Regions from separate parts of the Homo sapiens genome. Here region 1 is linked to region 2. A link means that fine-mapping ties the variant in region 2 to the expression of a gene that starts in the linked region. Tissue or cell type: tibial artery. Region 2 holds a variant in brackets; the other region holds the start of a gene. All regions are shown on one strand. Distances are from middle to middle.

What was found. PIP is the estimated chance that this variant, and not a neighbour inherited with it, causes the effect.
Region 1: it holds the start of ANKDD1A, and the variant in region 2 is fine-mapped to the expression of ANKDD1A in tibial artery (GTEx, PIP above 0.99). The same link has a PIP of 0.9 or more in lung.

The regions. Positions count from the first base shown.
Region 1 is chr15:64,907,325-64,915,416 of GRCh38, forward strand. It overlaps ANKDD1A (ankyrin repeat and death domain containing 1A), which reads left to right and starts at 4,578. Exons shown (of 15, transcript NM_182703.6): 1 at 4,578-4,640. The coding sequence starts at 4,607. RefSeq lists silencers at 3,806-4,100, 4,174-4,223, 4,424-4,603 and enhancers at 4,790-5,333, 8,041-8,092.
Region 2 is chr15:64,948,097-64,956,198 of GRCh38, forward strand. ANKDD1A (ankyrin repeat and death domain containing 1A) reads left to right here. Exons shown (of 15, transcript NM_182703.6): 14 at 1,745-1,876. Among named protein-coding and RNA genes, the nearest start is that of SPG21, 38 kb to the right of the region's middle. The variant A/G (reference allele first, on the strand shown) is at 3,040.

The sequences.
Region 1 (8,092 bases), 41 kb before region 2:
CCCCTGACCCCACTTGGCTGGGAGCTTCTGCCACTCCCTCCCTCCTCTCAAGCAGCTGATTGCTCTAAGCAGAGAGGAAACCAGTGCCATTCTGGCTCCCAAATGCTGGTACAAGACCAGCAAATATTTACCACTCTTGTGTGTGTGTGTGTGTGTGTGTATTTTTTTCTTTTGTTAGAAAAGGGCTAGCGCAATATATAACAAGTGATTCATGGTGGCGTCTTCTGGTAGATTGATTGTATTTTGTCCCTTCTTTTTTTTTTTTTTTGTTTTTTTGAGACGGAGTCTCACTCTGTCGCCCAGGCTGGAATGCAGTGGCCTGATCTCAGCTCACTGCAAGCTCCACCTTCCGGGTTCACACCATTCTCCTGCCTCAGCCTCCTGAGTAGCTGGGACTACAGGCACCCGTCACCACGCCCGGCTAATTTTATATATATATATTTTTTTAGTAGAGATGGGTTTTCACCATGTTAGCCAGGATGGTCTTGATCTCCTGACCTCGTGATCCTCCCACCTCGGCCTCCCAAAGTGCTGGGATTACAGACGTGAGCCACCGCTCCCAGCCCCTTCTTTGTATTTTAAAATTTCTTTAGTAATGAACAAACATTAATAAGACAAGAAATAAAAAGCTGTTTTAAAATTTCTCTTAAGCAAAAGGCCAACAATCATTTAAAAAATGAGTGGGATAAGAACAGATTGTTCTCAGGAAAAAAAAGAAAAGAAAACGGCTCTTAAACATAGAAACAGATAACCAACTTTTCTTGTAATGATAGAAATGCAAACTAAGATTATAATGAATTACTATTTCTTACTTATCAGATTGGGAAAAATCCAAGTTTTACAGAATGTTCTCCTTGGAAACAGGCACCCTCATACATTGGTAATGGAAATGCAAAATATTTCTGGACCTTATGGAGGAGAATTTGGCAATAGCTAGCAAAGTTATATGTGCATTTACCCTTTGACCAAGCAATCCCATTTATAAGAATAGATCCCATAGATGCACTGGTAAAAATACCAACTGATGCATGCATAAGGTTGGTCATTGTAACTCTATTGTAATAACAAAAGTCTGGAAACAGGGCCAATGTCCATCAACAGGGAGTGGTTGAATAAGCCACCCAATGGAGGACTCTGAGGCTGTACAAAGGATGCAGGAAGATCTCAACAGACTACTGCGGAGAGATCTCTGTAGTAGATTGTTCCCAGAATAAAGCCAGAAGAATGTTCAGAACGGGCAAATCTATGGAGAAAGAAAGTAGATTTGTAGTTGCCTAGGGCTGTGTGTGGAGGGTTGGGGAGGGTAAACTGCAAGGGGGGGTGATAGCTAAAGCATATGGGCTTTCTTTTCTGGGGTGATGAAAATATTTAGTGGTGATAGTTATACAACTCTGAACGATACTGTACTAAAAACCATTGAATTATACACTTAAATGGGTGAATTTTAAGGGGCAGGGCAAAGTAAGAAGATGATATATAGTATGCTACTGCAGTAAAGGGAGAATATATGATTAAATTAAACAATATAAGGGTAAGCATCAACAACACAAATGTTATTTTGTCAGTCAGGATGCAGTGAAGGAAGCAGAATCATGTTGAGGTTATGGGTTTAGGGTACTGGTCCCCAACCTTTTGGCACTAGGGTCCAGTTTTGTGGCAGACAATTTTTTACAGGACTTGGGTGGTGGGGGGATGGTTTTGGGATAAAATTGTTCCCCTTCGGATGATCAGGCATTAGTTAGATTCTCATAAGAAGTGTGCAACCTAGGTTGGGCATGGTGGCTCACGCCTGTAATCCCAGTACTTTGGGAGGCCGAGGCAGGTGGATCACTTGAGGTCAGGAGTTTGAGACCAGCCTTACCAACATGGTGAAACCCCATCTCTACTAAAAAAATACAAAATTAGCCGGGCATGGTGGCGCAAACCTATAATCCCAGCTACATGGGAGGCTGAGGCAGGAGAATTGCTTGAACCCGGGAGGCAGAGATTGCAGTGAGCCATTGCACTCCAGCCTGGGCAACAAGAGCAAAACTCCATCTCAAAAAAAAAAAAAAGAAGTGTGCAACCTAGATTCCTCACATGCACAGTTCACAATAGGGTTCACCCTTCTATGAGAATCTAATGCCACCACTGATCTTTCAGGATGCGGAGCTCAGGTGGTAATGCTCGCTCTCCTGCTGCTCACCTCCTGCTGTGTGGCCCAGTTCCTAACAGGCCATAGACCAGTACTAGTCTGAAGCCTGGGGGTTGGAGACCCCTGGGATTAGGGATCTGTGATAGTAATTTGCCTTACACAGTTGCGGAAGGACCAGAAGGGGAGTTGGGGATCAGAGGAGTCCTTAGTCAGTCATCTGAGAAACCAAGTATGTCCAGCTGCTAAAATGGAACCACAAGGGAAAGCTCCTGGGGAGGTCTATGGGTGGTACTAATGCCCTGGGTCTGCAGCCAAGTCCGCGATGGCCTGGGGCCACTGTTGGTCAGCAGGCTCAGCAGCTGGGAAGAAAAGCTGGATGTGGAGTGAAGGAGAGTGACAGCAGGCTGGAAGCCAGTGGTGCCCTCTTCATCCATCACCACAGCTGACTATGACAACCTTCAGAGACTTAACTTTGAAACATGTAAATACTTTACATAATTGTAAAGCAAAATTAACATTTAAAAATATCAAAAAACAAAAGCAAAACAAAATAAATAAACCATGCATGTTGAGTTGGTGGCATAACCACATAAAGAACTATTCCAAGTGACTAAAACAGTAACGTGACACTATGCCCCTAGTGGGATGTACATGTGACAAAAGCTTTACAAAAAACATTTAAACTGTTTTCAGGAATAATATCTTTGGCTAGGCGTGGTGGCCAAGCACTTTGGGAGACCTAGGTGGGTAGATCACCTGAGGTCAGGAGTTCGAGGCCAGCCTGGCCAACATGGTGAAACCCCCGTCTCTACTAAAAATACAAAAATCAGCCGCGTGTGGTGGCACACACCTGTAGTCCCAGCTACTTGGGAGGTTTAGGCATGAGAATCGCTTGAACCTGGGAGGCAGAGGTTGCAGTGAGCTGAGATTACGCTACTGCACTCCAGCTTGGGCAACACAGTGAGACTCTGTCTTAAAAAAAAAACAAAAACAAAAAGGGGGGGGTGCGGCGCAGTGGCTCACACCTGTAATCCCAACACTTTGGGAGGCCAAGGTAGGTGGATCACCTGAGGTCAGGAGTTCAACACCAGCCTGACCAACATAGTGAAACCCCATCTCTACTAAAAATACAAAATTATCCAGGTGTGGGGGCGAGTGCCTGTAATCCTAGCTACATGGGAGGCTGAGGCAGGAGAACTGCTTGAACCCAGGAGGCAGAGGTTGCAGTGAGCCGAGATCATACCACTGTACTCCAGCCTGGGCGAAAGAGTGAGACTCTGTCTCAGAAAAAAAAAAATCATATCTTTGATTATTATGTTGGAATTGTTATTTTGAGACCATTTTGAGGGGTTGGCTCAGGGCTCATTAATTGTTAGCTGTTATCATTATGTTATTTTTCAAAGGCCATTCCAAATACCTCCTTCTTCAGGAAGCCTTCTTGAACTATATTCTAAGGACTAATGACTGAAAGATGCTCTTCCTCCTTTGATCCCCAAAGTAGTAGTAACTACACCTATCATGGCTTTGCTGGCTTCTTGCCTTGGGATAGAGATGCCTGAGACCCCATTATCCCTAAATTCAAAGAAGCTGTAAATGCCTTTAAGGCAAAAAGGACATGGACATCCCCCAAGGGTCTGAAGTGCAACCCATTCTGGTGTATTTAATGTGTATCTTTTTGTTTCTATGTGTCTTTGCAAGTCTGTGTTGTTTGATGTAAATGCATTTGTAATATTTTTATTGATATTGTTTCCTAGGTCTTATTTGGTTTGGTTATTTACTTTTTCTGCCTAGCACTAGGTGTTTAAATCCATATTGCCACGAATACAGCGGGTCCCTTGCTTTGAGTGCTGCACAGTTTATCCATCTGCTCTTACAAGAAAGGGCGCTTAGATTGTCTCCAACTCCCAGCAACCACAGCAACACAGCAACCAACATCCTCCTACATGTCCCTTTATGGGCCTGATAAATCTTTCTGAACACTGATAAATCCGACCATCTCTTCATATGCTTGCAGACCTGCTGAGGTTGTGGTCCCTTAAACGCCAGCTCACATCTTTGGGGTTTGACTTTCTGCGCCTGAGGCGGCGGGCCCAAGGCTCAGCCCTCCTCCCCGAGTCCCGAGAGGCGCGAGGAGGATGAGCCTGCCAGATGCCTTGTGCGCATCTATCTCCAGGGCCGGGGAGGCTGGGCGAACTCCCGGGGAGGAGACTGGGTCAGGGACACCTGCGGAACTCGGCGTGGCCCCGACCCGCCGGCCTCGGGCGCGGAGGGGTGGGCAGGTTAAGAGAGCAGGAGGAGGGACCTGCGTCCTGGTCCGGGACTGGGGTGGCCGGGGCAGCTGCGCTCCTAGCAGGCGGGGCGTGGAGTCTGGAGGAGCGACCGCCCCGTCCTCTCGGCTCCCCGGGCCCCGCCCCGGCGGACGCGCGCCTCGCGCCCGGGCACCAGCGCGCGCAGGGGCTGCGGAGCGGCAGGATGCAGGAGGAGCTGGCGTGGGAGACCGACGGCCGTGAGTCTGCCTGGAGGAGGGAGGGGGGCGGGCCGAGGCCGAGAGGACCCCCGCATCCGTTTGGGGAGTGCCAGGGGTGAGGTTGGCGCCCTCCGAACGGCCACCTCCGTGTGGGGCGTCTGTGTGGCTCCGAGCGGAATGGTTACCGGTCCGCGCACTGGGCCGAGGGGACCTTGCCAGTGCGTCTGGGACTCGGGGACCACACCCGCCAGGTGAGCGGGGAGCAGCGGCTGAGAGGTTAGCTACAAATAATAAAGGTAATAGCGATCCTTGACTGCGTGCTGTACTTTGTGTGCCAGGCCTTGACCCAGGAGAGGCACGTCATTTGATCTTCGCTGCGGCCATATGGGTAGGACATTATGTTATCTTCATTTCGCAGATGAGAAACTGAGGCACAGGGTGTTCAAATGAGTTGTTCAAGGTCACACAGCCATTGAGTGGTAGAAGTGCTGAAGGGCCCAGCTCACCCGGAATGCTGGGGCTGGATAGCGAGTGGAGACCGCATCAGATGGGGCACGCACTCAGAGGAGAGGAGCCTGACTGGCCACAGGTGGAATGAGGGCACCTCCGAACCTCCCTCAAGGAGTGCGCCCAGTGCCAGGGCCTCTAGGCCGGGCAGCAGCGTCTGTGTGGGCATCAGCTGGCCTGGGGCAGCTTTGGCTGCACCGTCTGGGAGAGGGGAGAGAAAGATTGTGTCGGTGTCTGCACTGTGAGTCCTTGATCCTGCAGCCCTGGCTGAATCCTGACAGCTGAATCCCGGGGCTTTCCCTCAAAAGCGCATAGTGCAGCTCACTGGATTCCTTTGAGACCTATAGTGTCCAAAATGCTGGCACACTGCATCTACTCAGCTGAGGGATGTGTTGGGGGTGGGAATGCTCAATCAAGATTAGGTACATGGTTCTGCCTGGGGCGGAGGATCACTTGAGTGGGCCTGCGAAGAATGTGTACCAATGGAGCATTGGGGTGTGTGGCAGAGAATTCTGGACAAAGACCCAGCATGGGCAAAGGCTCAGGTAGCTCAGTGGGTATTGGATGTGGCCAGAAAGAGGGTGCCGGATGGGAGGTGGATGGAAGAGATGAGACTGGACTTGATTTCATTCTAACTTAACCTTCTCTGGCCTGACCCTATGCAGTGTCTGCTGGCTTCCCATTGGAACTCCTGGCTGTTTGCCAATACAAACCAGGCCAATCCCCCTAAGCTGCACATAAGATAGAGGGTGCCAGACAGGAAGGGACCTATACAGATCTCTTTCTTCACCCTCCCCCAGTTTTACAATGGAAGAAACAGACCTACAAGGGGGATGTGACTAGCCCAGGATCCTGCTGCTGGAAAGTGGCAGGGAAGGTACTAGAACCCAGGCCTCTGTAAGCTCACATCTGAAGTGGCAGCTCTCTTTGGCTACCAGAATTTGACCCTTTGCCTTGGAGGAATAATAGTGATGATGATGGTGGTGGTGGTGGCGGTGTGGTCATTATGTGCCAGACACTGTGCCAGGGGGTTTTCATATCTCATTTCTAATCATGATATTAACCTTGTAGGGAAGCTCGCACTCCTGTTTTGCAGATGAGGAAACTGCCTAACACAGCTAGGAAGTGGTTAAGCCAGAGTTGAACCCAGGACTGTGTGATTGCCCCCCAGGGTAGCAACTCTGAGATCCACAGGTTGTATCCATGAGGCCCCAGAAAGCTCAAGATCCTCTTTCTCATCTGGAGAAGACTGTGTGGAATTTATCTAGAAAAACAAACTGCATGGCAGGCCTGTCTCTCACCTCAGTGCATCTTAGCCTTCCCTACCAAGACACTCGTCACCTGTCCCTGGATACACAAAGGGGCTGGGTTCAGACATTCATACTGGACCAAACATGCAGGCTATGGGGTCACTTGCCCTGCAGTGACTATGGAAAGGGCCAGCAAATATTTGTCTCTGTGCTAGTATGTGTGAGCACTTTGGGAGAGGGGACAGGCATCTATTCGTCTGGGGATTGTTGGTGTCACTCATACAAGCAGAGATTTTTTTGTTTCTGTTTTCTTTTTTTTTTTTTGAGATGGAGTCTCGCTCTGTCACTAGGCTGGAGTGCACTGGCATGATCTCGGCTCACTGCAACCTCCAGCTCCCAGGTTGAAGCAATTCTCCTGCCTCAGCCTTCCGAGTAGCTGGGACTACAGGTGTGTGCCACCATGCCCAATTAATTTTTGTATCTTTAGTAGAGACGGGGTTTCACCATGTTGGCGAGGATGGTCTTGATCTCCTGACCTCGTGATCCATCCACCTCGGCCTCCCAAAGAGCTGGGATTACAGGTGTGAGCCACTGCACCCAGCCTGTTTTTGTTTTCTTTTTAGAGACAGGGTCTCACTCTGTTGCCCAGGCTGGAGTGCAGAGGTGCAATTATAGCTCATTGGCAGCCTCAAACTCCTGGGCTCAAGCAAGCCTCTTGCCTTAGCTTCTTGAGTAGCCGGGACTACAGGCATGTGCCACCACACCTGGCTAATTTTTAAAAAAACTTTTTTGTAGAGATGGAGGTTTTGCTTTTTAGCCCAGGCTGGTCTTGAACTCCTGGCTTCAAGCCATCCTCCTGCCTTGGCCTCCCAAAGTGCTGGGATTGCACGCATGAGCCACCATGCCTGGCTCAAAAGCAGAGTTTTGTGGGTTCCTCCTGTGCCCACCTTTGGGCCTGCTGTGAGCTGTGGGTGGATCAGGAAGGGTCAAGTGTGGCCAGGGCCTCCAAAATACTTGAAGTCTAGCCATGGAGACTAGACATCCTCACAATCAAGAGCCGTCAGGATGATGGCAGCATGGGGCTCCGGTGGGGATCATCTGGACCTGTGTCCTCCTGGCTCAGAGACTAATGCAGTCTGACCCTGAGCCCACAGGTGTGCGTGACAGGGGTTGGCAGGGGGAGCTCTGAGGTTCCCTTTAATCTGAGACTCTGTGCTAAAGGTGCAGCGATGGGGGTGAGAGGAGCACAGAGAAGAGAGACCACAGAGAAGGAAAATCAGGGTAGCCTCAGCGTGGGCAGGTGGAAGCTGGTTAGGATTTGGGCAAGAGTGATTGGAAGAGGCTGGGCGCTGTGGCTCACGCCCGTAATCCCAGCACTTTGGGAGGCCGAGGCAGGCAGATCACTTGAGGTCAGGAGTTGGGGACCAGCCTGGCCAACCTGGTGAAACCCTGTCTCTACCAAATATACAAAAATTAACCAGGTGTGGTGACACACACTTGTAATCCCAGCTACCGAGGAGGCTGAGGTGGGAGAATCGCTTGAACCTGGGAGGCAGAGGTTGCAGTGAGACAAGATCACGCCACTGCACTCCAGCCTGGGCAACAGAGGGGTTGGAAGAAGGGGTGGAGGAACAAGGAGACGGAATGTGCAGGAGTGGGGTAAACATGCCTCTGGCCTCACCCGGCGCTGGCACGCAGTAGGTGGCTCAGTAAATCCTGGCTGTGTAGACTGAG
Region 2 (8,102 bases):
GAAAATATACTAACACCACAGAACTCCTATGAACCATGGCTAAATGGGCAAAAAATATAGAGAGAGAATCTTTTAAAAGAGATTCCATTTACAATGGTGTGTGTGTTTCATCTGGAAAACCTAAAAGACAAATACAGATGACACATATGAATAAAACAATAATGGTTCAACTATAAAAGACTTGTGTAAATGGAATGACATTCTGTATTTGTGGCAAGAAAAAGTATCATATAAATATCAGTTTTTCTCCAATTAGATTAAAACTTTGATCTAATTTTAATCAAAATAGGTTTTTGAAACTTGACTGAAGTATTCTACAATTTGTCTGGAAGAATAAACAGGGATATAAAAGTGAACATTCTGGGGGAAAACAATAAAGGGGATCTAACCCAAGCAGACTCAGCCTTTTATAAAGCCAAAATAAAATTAACATAAAGAGATATCTGGATCAGGCATAGTGGCTCCCACCTGTAATCTCAGCACTTTGGGAGGCCAAGGTGGGCAGATCACCTGAGGTTAGGAGTTTGAGACCAGCCTGGCCAACATGGTGAATCCCCCGTCTCTACTAAAAATACAAAAATTAGCTGGGCATGATGGTCGGGTCCTGTAATCCCAGCTGCTCGACAGGCTGAGGTTTAAGAATCGCTTGAACCCGGGACACAGAGTTTGCAGTGAGCCGAGATCCCACCACTACACTCCAGCCTGGGGGACAGAGTGAGACTCTGTCTCCCAAAGGAAAAAAAAAAGATTCCTGACACAAAAATATGCAAATTGACATTTGCATATCAATTTGGGATAGAGCAGAGTTCAAAAGTAAACGCTGCTACGGATAAGAACTTTCATATATGATAAAGAAGCACTTGTACATTACAGTGGCGGGGGCAGAGATAGTTAATAAATGGTGTTGAGACTGCTGGGTCAAGCGGAAGTGCCACCACACCAAGGGCAGTACCGTGAGGACATGCCTGCTGAGGGCCCCAAGAGGGGCACGGAAGGTCAGAGGGGCGAATGGAGTGACCTGGACCTGATGGGCGTGGCCCAGCATCTGTCTGTTTCCACAGCACTGGAGAGCCAGCTGAATCACAGCCAGCTGAATAACATGTTAACCCCATGCCGTGTGGGCAATTATTTTCCAAACATGGTTGTATGTTGGAACCACCTGGGAAATTTTGAAACCGTTAAATGCCTAGGCTGCACCCAGTCCCAGGTACATGAGAATCTCTGGGGGTGACATGGGCCCTAGGTGTTTCCAAGGAGCAGCTGAGTCTGAGAACCACTGGTGCAGGGGAAAGCATGGCCAGCTCCATCTCTGACTAAGCTGTATTCTCATCTGTAAATTAGGACCACTATCATGCAAGACACAGATTATTTTGAGCAGCCAGAGAGGTGAAGTATACAATTTGTGCATCATGGTACCACAACGATGAAAGTCAATTCTTTCTCCATTCAGAGTGACACCAACAGAGTGCATAGTGGGTGTTCAGGAGAAGGCCTGGGGCTGGGGAGGTTCTAGAGACCAAGACACAAACCCTTCCCTCCCCATCTGAGAGGCTGCTCCTCCACTCCCCTTACCTATCTCCAGGCTGAGCTTGGCTGGAGCATGGAGAAGGGCCTTGGAGGCTTTTGGCCTCTTTCCCACCTGGGCATGTTCAGGAGGCGGTGCAGGGTGGCATAGACAGGCGCTCTGGTCAAGTGGCCCCATTGGCTCCTTCTCCCTCTCTCTCTCCTCCCTCACTGTTCTCAGGCACCAGGAGCTATCAGGAGCACGGCCACCGAATGCTGCTCATTTGGCTGCATGGCGTGGCCACGGCTGGTGAGAACCCCAGCAAAGCGCTGTTCGAGGGCCTCGTGGCCATTGGCAGGAGGGACCTGGCTGGTAAGAGCGTACTCTGCTGGGCTGCTTCTCAGGAGCTGGGTGGCCCCCACTGGAATGCAGCAGGGCCCTCCAAGGGCTGCTCAGACAAGAATGCTGTGATGCTGGCTCTAGGCCTTCCAGATTCCTACCCCTAGCCCTGCCCTCTTTTCCCTTGGGCAAACTACAGTGCCTCCTGGCCCTGGTTTCCCCATCTGTGCAATGAGGGTGTTGGCCCAAACTGAACCCTGTGACCTTCACAGCCCCGGAGCCAGTGATGCTGTCCATAATCTCTTCCTTACCAGCCCTCTATACCTTGACATTTTTTTTCCATTTTGGAATAAGCCTGGAACCACCTCCAGACTTTTTTCACAAACATTAAGACATAGGAGCCAAAACTGACTTAATATGAGTTGAACCAGTCAAATCTGGTCAAATAAACCTTCTGAGGTCATCACAACTTATTTGAGTATGCCAATCTCAAAAGCCTGATATGGGATTCAGTGTTCTGTGGAATCATCAGACAAGCAGGATAGAAGGTTCTAGTACTAATCCCTCATTAAAAACAAAATCAGCTCATGATGAAAAAGCCTTAAACGCTGTGATACCCACTGACGTGGTACATAATGGGGCAACCACAGAATGGGGCACTAGGCAGCCACTGATAGTTGTGAAGTCTCCATTAGATATGAGGCAACAAAGAAAACCACTCCTGACATATTTCTAGTATATTGCTGAGGGAAATGTTTCTAGCATATTATTGAGGGAAAAGAAAGGACCGCCCCCCCCCCCCCCCCCCCCCATAGCTGCTATAGGCAAGGTGGAAAAGCTAAGACTCATTTCAGGGTAGAGAGATTAGGGACGCTACCTTTCTTTCCCCAAAATGTTCTTAAATATAGTTGTTACATCTTTTAACACAAACTGTGGCATGCAATTAAAACATAAAACCAGTCCTGTGAGGCAGAGCTTAGGCAACAGAGGAAGTAAGATTCTTGTTTTTAACAGAAAATATCAGGAAGAAAGCAAACGCAGCCCCGAGTGCCCCCAGGAGGTGCACAGCCATGTAACCGGAGGGGCCAGACCTTCAGGCACGTGGGACCTCAGCGTGTGGAGCCACCTGAACAGAAGATGACCATCATTTAAGGGCTTTTTAAAAAATCACTGTTAACAGACCTCCAGGTGATTCT[A/G]CTGAAATGCACAGTCATGCAGAGCCCAGGAGGCAAATGTTTGTACACTGATCTTTTTCATGAGGATGGGTCCAAGGGCCTGTAATCCCGTCCAACAGGTATGGTCCTTTTGAGCTCTTGGCACACTTTGTTTATTTCTTCTTCTTTTTCTTTTCTTCTTCTTCTTCTTCTCTTCTTCTTCTTTCTTCTTTCCTCTTTTTCTTTCTTCTTTCCTCTTCTTTCTTCTTCCTCTTTCTTCTTTCTTTTTCTTTTCTTCTTCCTCTTTTTTCTTTTTTCTTTTCTTCCTCTTTTCTTCTTTTTCTTTCTTCTTCCCTTTCTTTTCTTTTCTCTTTTTTCTTTTCTTCTTCCTCTTCTTTTCTTCTTCTTCCTCTTCCTTCTTCCTGTTTTCTTCTTCCTCTTCCCTCTTCTTTCTTCTCTTCTTTCTTTTTCTTTTCTTTCTTCTTCTTCTTCCTTTTCTTTCTTCTTTCTTCTTGTTCCTTATTCTTCTTCTCTTCTTTTCTTCTTCTATCTTCTTTCCTTCTATCTTCTTTTTCTTTCTTTCCTTCTTTCTTCTTCCTCTTCTTCTTCCTTATTTTCTTTTTCTTCCCTTTTCTTCTTTCCTCCTTCTTCCTCTTCTTCCTTCTTTCCTTTTCTTCTTCTTTCCTTTCTTCTTCCTTCTTTCTTTCCTCTTTTCTTCTTTCTTCCTCTTCTTCATCCTTCTTATTCTTTCTTCTTCTTTCTTCTTCCTCTTCTTTTTCTTTCTTCTTTCCTTCTTTCTTTTTCTTTTCTCTTCGTCCTCTTGTTCTTTCCTCTTCTTCCTTTCTTTTCTTCTTCTTCTTTCCTTCTGCTCTTCTTTCTTCTTCCTTCTTATTCTTCTTTCTTTTCTTTCTTCTTCCATCTTCTATCTTCTTTTTCTTCTTCTTTCCTCTTCTTTCTTCTTCTTAGTTCTTCCTTTCTTCTTCTTCCTTCTTTTCTTCCTCTTCTTCCTTCTTTTCTTCTTCTTTCTTCTCTTTCTTCTTCTTCCTTATTCTTCTTCCTCTTTCTTCATCTTTTTCTTTCTTCTTTCCTTCTACTTTTTCTTCTTCTTCTTTCCTCTTTCTTCTTCTTCCTTCTCCTCCTTTCTTCTTCTTATTCTTCTCCTTCTTCCTTCTCCTTCTTTTTCTTCTTCCTTCTCCTTCCTCTCCTCCTCCTTCGTTCTTTTTCTTTCTTCCTTCTTCCTTCTCCTTCTTCTTAGTTCTTCCTCCTTCTTCTTTCTTCTTCCTCTTTCCTTCTTTTCTTCTTCCTCCTTCTTCTTCTTCTCCTTCTTAGTTTTCTTCTCCTCCTCCTTTCTTCTTCTTAGTTCTTCTCCTTCTTCCTTCTCCTTCTTCTTCCTTCGTCACCGTCTTCTCCTTCTTCTTACTTTCTTCTTCCTTCGTCTTCTTCTCCTTCTCCTCCTCCTTCCTTCTCCTTCGTTCTTCTTCTCCTTCTTTTCTTCTTCTTCCTTCGTCTTCTTCTTCCTCCTCTCCTTCTTCGTCTTTTCTTTCTTCTTCTCCTTCTCCTTCTTCTTCCCCTTCTTCCTTCTTCTTCTTCCTCTCCTTTTTCTTCTTAGTTCTTCTCCTTTCTTCTTTCTTCTTCTCCTTCTTCCTCCTTCTTTCCTCTTCTCCTCCTCCTCCTTTCTTTTCTTCTTCCTTCTCCTTCTTCTTTTCTTCTCCTTCTCCTCCTTCTTCCTCCTCCTTCTTCCTTTCTTCTCCTTGTCTCTTCTCCTTCTTCTTTTCTTCTCTTTCTTCTTCTCCTTCTTCCTTCTCCTTCCTTCTCTTCTTCTCCTTCTTCTTAGTTCTTCTTCCTCTTCTTCCTTCTCTTTCTTCCTCTTCTTCTTTTCTTCTTGTCTCTCCTTCTTCTCCTTCTTAGTTCTTTCTTCTCCTTGTTCTTCTCCTCCTTCTTCCTTTCTTCTTTCCTCTCTTTTTTCTTCCTCTTTCCTTCTTTCTTCTTCTTCCTTCTTATACTTTCTTTTCTTTCTTCCGCTTTCTACTTTCTTCTTCCTTTTTTCTTCCTTTTTCTCCTTTCTTCTTTCCTTCTTTTCTTCTTTTTCTTCTTCCTCTTCTTATTCTTTCTTCTCCTTCTTTCTTGTTCCTTATTCTTCTTTCTTCTTTCCTCCTCTTTCTTCTTCTTAGTTCTTCCTCTTCTTTCCTTCTTCCTTCTTTCTTCTTCTTTTACTTTTTTCTTTCTTCTTTCCTTCTTATTCTTCCTCTCCTTCTTCTTAGTTCTTCTTTCTTCTCCTTCTTTTCCTTTCTTCTTCTTAGTTCTCCTTTTCTTCTCCTCCTCCTCCCTTCTTCTTCCTCCTCCTTCCTTTTCTTCTTTCTTCTCTCCTTCTTCTTCTTCCTCTTCCTTCTCCTTCTTCTTTAGTTCTTCCTCCTCTTCCTTCTCCTTCTTCCTTCTTCTCCTCTCCTTCTTCCTTCTCCTTCTTTCTTCCTCCTTCTTCTTAGTTCTTCTTCTTCCTTCTCCTTTTCTTCTTTCTTCTCTCCTTCTTCTTCTTCTTCCTTCTTCTTCCTCTTCCTTCTCCTTCTTTTCTTTCTTCTCCTTCTTTTCTTCTCCTTCTCCCTTCTTCTTTCTTCTTCTCCTTGTTCTTCTCCTTCTTCTCCTCCTTCTTCTTTCCTCTTTTCTTCGTTCTTCTTCCTCTTCCCTCTTTTCTTTCTTCTGCTTTCTTCTTCCTTTTTTTCTTCTTCCTTATTCTTTTCTTCTTTCCTCTTCTTTTCTTCTTTCCTCTTCTTCCTCTTTCTTCTTCATTCTTTCTTCTTCCTCTTTTCTTTCTTCCCTCTTCTTTCTTCTCTTTTTCTTTTTTCTTTTCTTCCTCTTCTTCTATTGTTTCTTTTTTTCTTCTTTCTTCCTCTATCTTCTTCCTTTCTTTCCTTTCTTCTTCCTTCTTTCCTCTTCTTTTCTTTCTTCTTCCTCTTCTTCTTTTCTCCTTCTTCTTTCTTCTTCCTCTTTTCTTCTTCTTTCTCCTCCCTCTTTTCTTCTTCCTTTCTTTTCTCCTTTCTTCTTCCTCTTTCTTCTTGTTCCTTATTATTCTTTCTTCTTTCTTTTCTTCTTCTTCTCCTTCTTTCTTGTTCCTTATTCTTTTCTTCTTCTTCTTCTTCCTCTCCTTCGTCTTCTTAGTTCTTTCTTCTTCTCCTTCTTTTCCTTTCTTCTTCCTTCTTAGTTCTCCTTTTCTTCTCCTTCTCTTCCTTCTTAGTTCTTCCTTCTTCTTCCTCCTCTCCTTCTTCTCTTCTTCTCCTTCTTCTTCCTTTTCTTTTCTTCTTCTTTCTTCTTCCTTCCTCTTCTTCCTCCTCTCCTCCTTCGTTCGTCGTCTTCTCCTTCTTCTTCTTCCCTCTTCTCCTTCTTCCTCTTTTTCTTCTTCCTTCTCCTTCTTCTTCCTTCTTCTCCTCTTTCTTCTCCTTCTTCCTCCTTCTCCTTCTTCTTTTCTTCTTCCTTCTCCTTGTTCTCCTTCTTCCTTATTCTTCCTTCTTCTCCTTCTTCCTCCTCCTTCCTCTTTTCTTCTTCCTTTTCTTCTTCCTTCTTCTTCTCCTTCTTTCTTCTTGTCTCTTCTTCTTCTCTCCTTCTCCTTGTTCTTCTCCTTCTTCTTCTCCTTCTCCTCCTCCTTCTTCTTCCTTCTCCTTCTTCTTTCTTTTTGTTCTTCTTTCTTCTTCTCCTTCTTCCTTCTCCTTAGTTGTTCTTCTTCCTTGTTCTTCTCCTTCTTTTTGTTGTTCTTTCTTCTTCCTTCTTCTTCTTTCTTCTCCTTTTCTTCTTCCTTCTCCTCCTCCTTCTTCCTTCTTCTCTTGTCTCTTCTCTCTCCTTCTTCTCCTTCTTCTTGTCTCTTCTTCTCTCTCCTTCTTCTTCTCCTTGTTCTTCTCCTGCTTCTCCTCTTCCTCTTTCCTTCTTCTTCCACTTCTTCTTCTTCCTCTTCTTCTTCTTTCTTTCTTTCTTCTTCTTTTCTCTTTTTTTTGATATGGAGTCTTACTCTGTTGCCAGGCTGGAGTGCAGTGGCGCAATCTTGGCTCACTGCAACCTCCACCTCCCAGGTTCACGCCATTCTCCTGCCTCAGCCTCCTGAGTAGCTGGGACTACAGGTGCCTGCCACCACACCCAGCTAATGTTTTGTATTTTCAGTAGAGACGGGGTTTCACTGTGTTAGCCAGGATGGTCTTGATCTCCTGACCTCGTGATCTTCCCCAGGGATGGGGTGTTCCATCTTCTGCCCTGTCCGGCAGAGTAGCTGCTTGCCACCTGAGGCTGTCATGCACCTGAAATGTTGGCTAGAGGGACTGAGAAGCTGAAATTTCTTATTTCTCATTATTTGAAATTGCAGGCACCCATAGCAAGTGGCATCCATGGTGCTTGGCTTTGAGGTGCCAGGCAAGCACAGCTTGTTCTGGGGCTTGGCTGTACCAGCAGGGGGATGTGTTTCTGGGGAATTGTGGCTCTGGAAGCTTCACGGTTTCCCAGAATGTGGAAAATATATCTGTGCAGGATAGAAATCCTGCCCAGAGGCTGTTTCTGTCTCATTTGAGCTCTCCTTCATGTGGCAGAGCTGGCTGTGGCGTTTAGGAGCCTACATTTTAGAAAAGCTTACCTCAAAGTTCTGCATTGAGCCTGAGACTGGAAAGGAGATAAAATAAAACAGCTGACAGGAGCTTTGGTAGTCACACATGCCTGATGGGGTGCACAGGGCCACAGTCTCTGAAAGGCAATTTGGCATTGTCTGTCCACAATATACTTTTATCCATTGGTCCAGCAATCCTACTCTAGGAATTTTTCCTACATATAAACCTGTATGCATACAAAATGATAGACATACAAGGTTATTACTCTGAAAAAGCAAAAGATTGGAAACAAACCAAGTGACTGGCTACAGGGGACTGGTGAAATAGAGTATGTTCCATCCACACAGTGGAATTCTGTTCAGCAGTGAAAAAAGGATGAGAGTGCTTTCCAAGTGTTGTTATGGAAAGAGCTCCAGGATAAATTAAGTGGAAAAAAACCCCAAGATACAGGTACATTAAACCGAAGGAAATTGGTTCAGAGGATAGCTGCACCATTTTTAGAGAAAAAGCTTCCTTTCTCTCTTCACC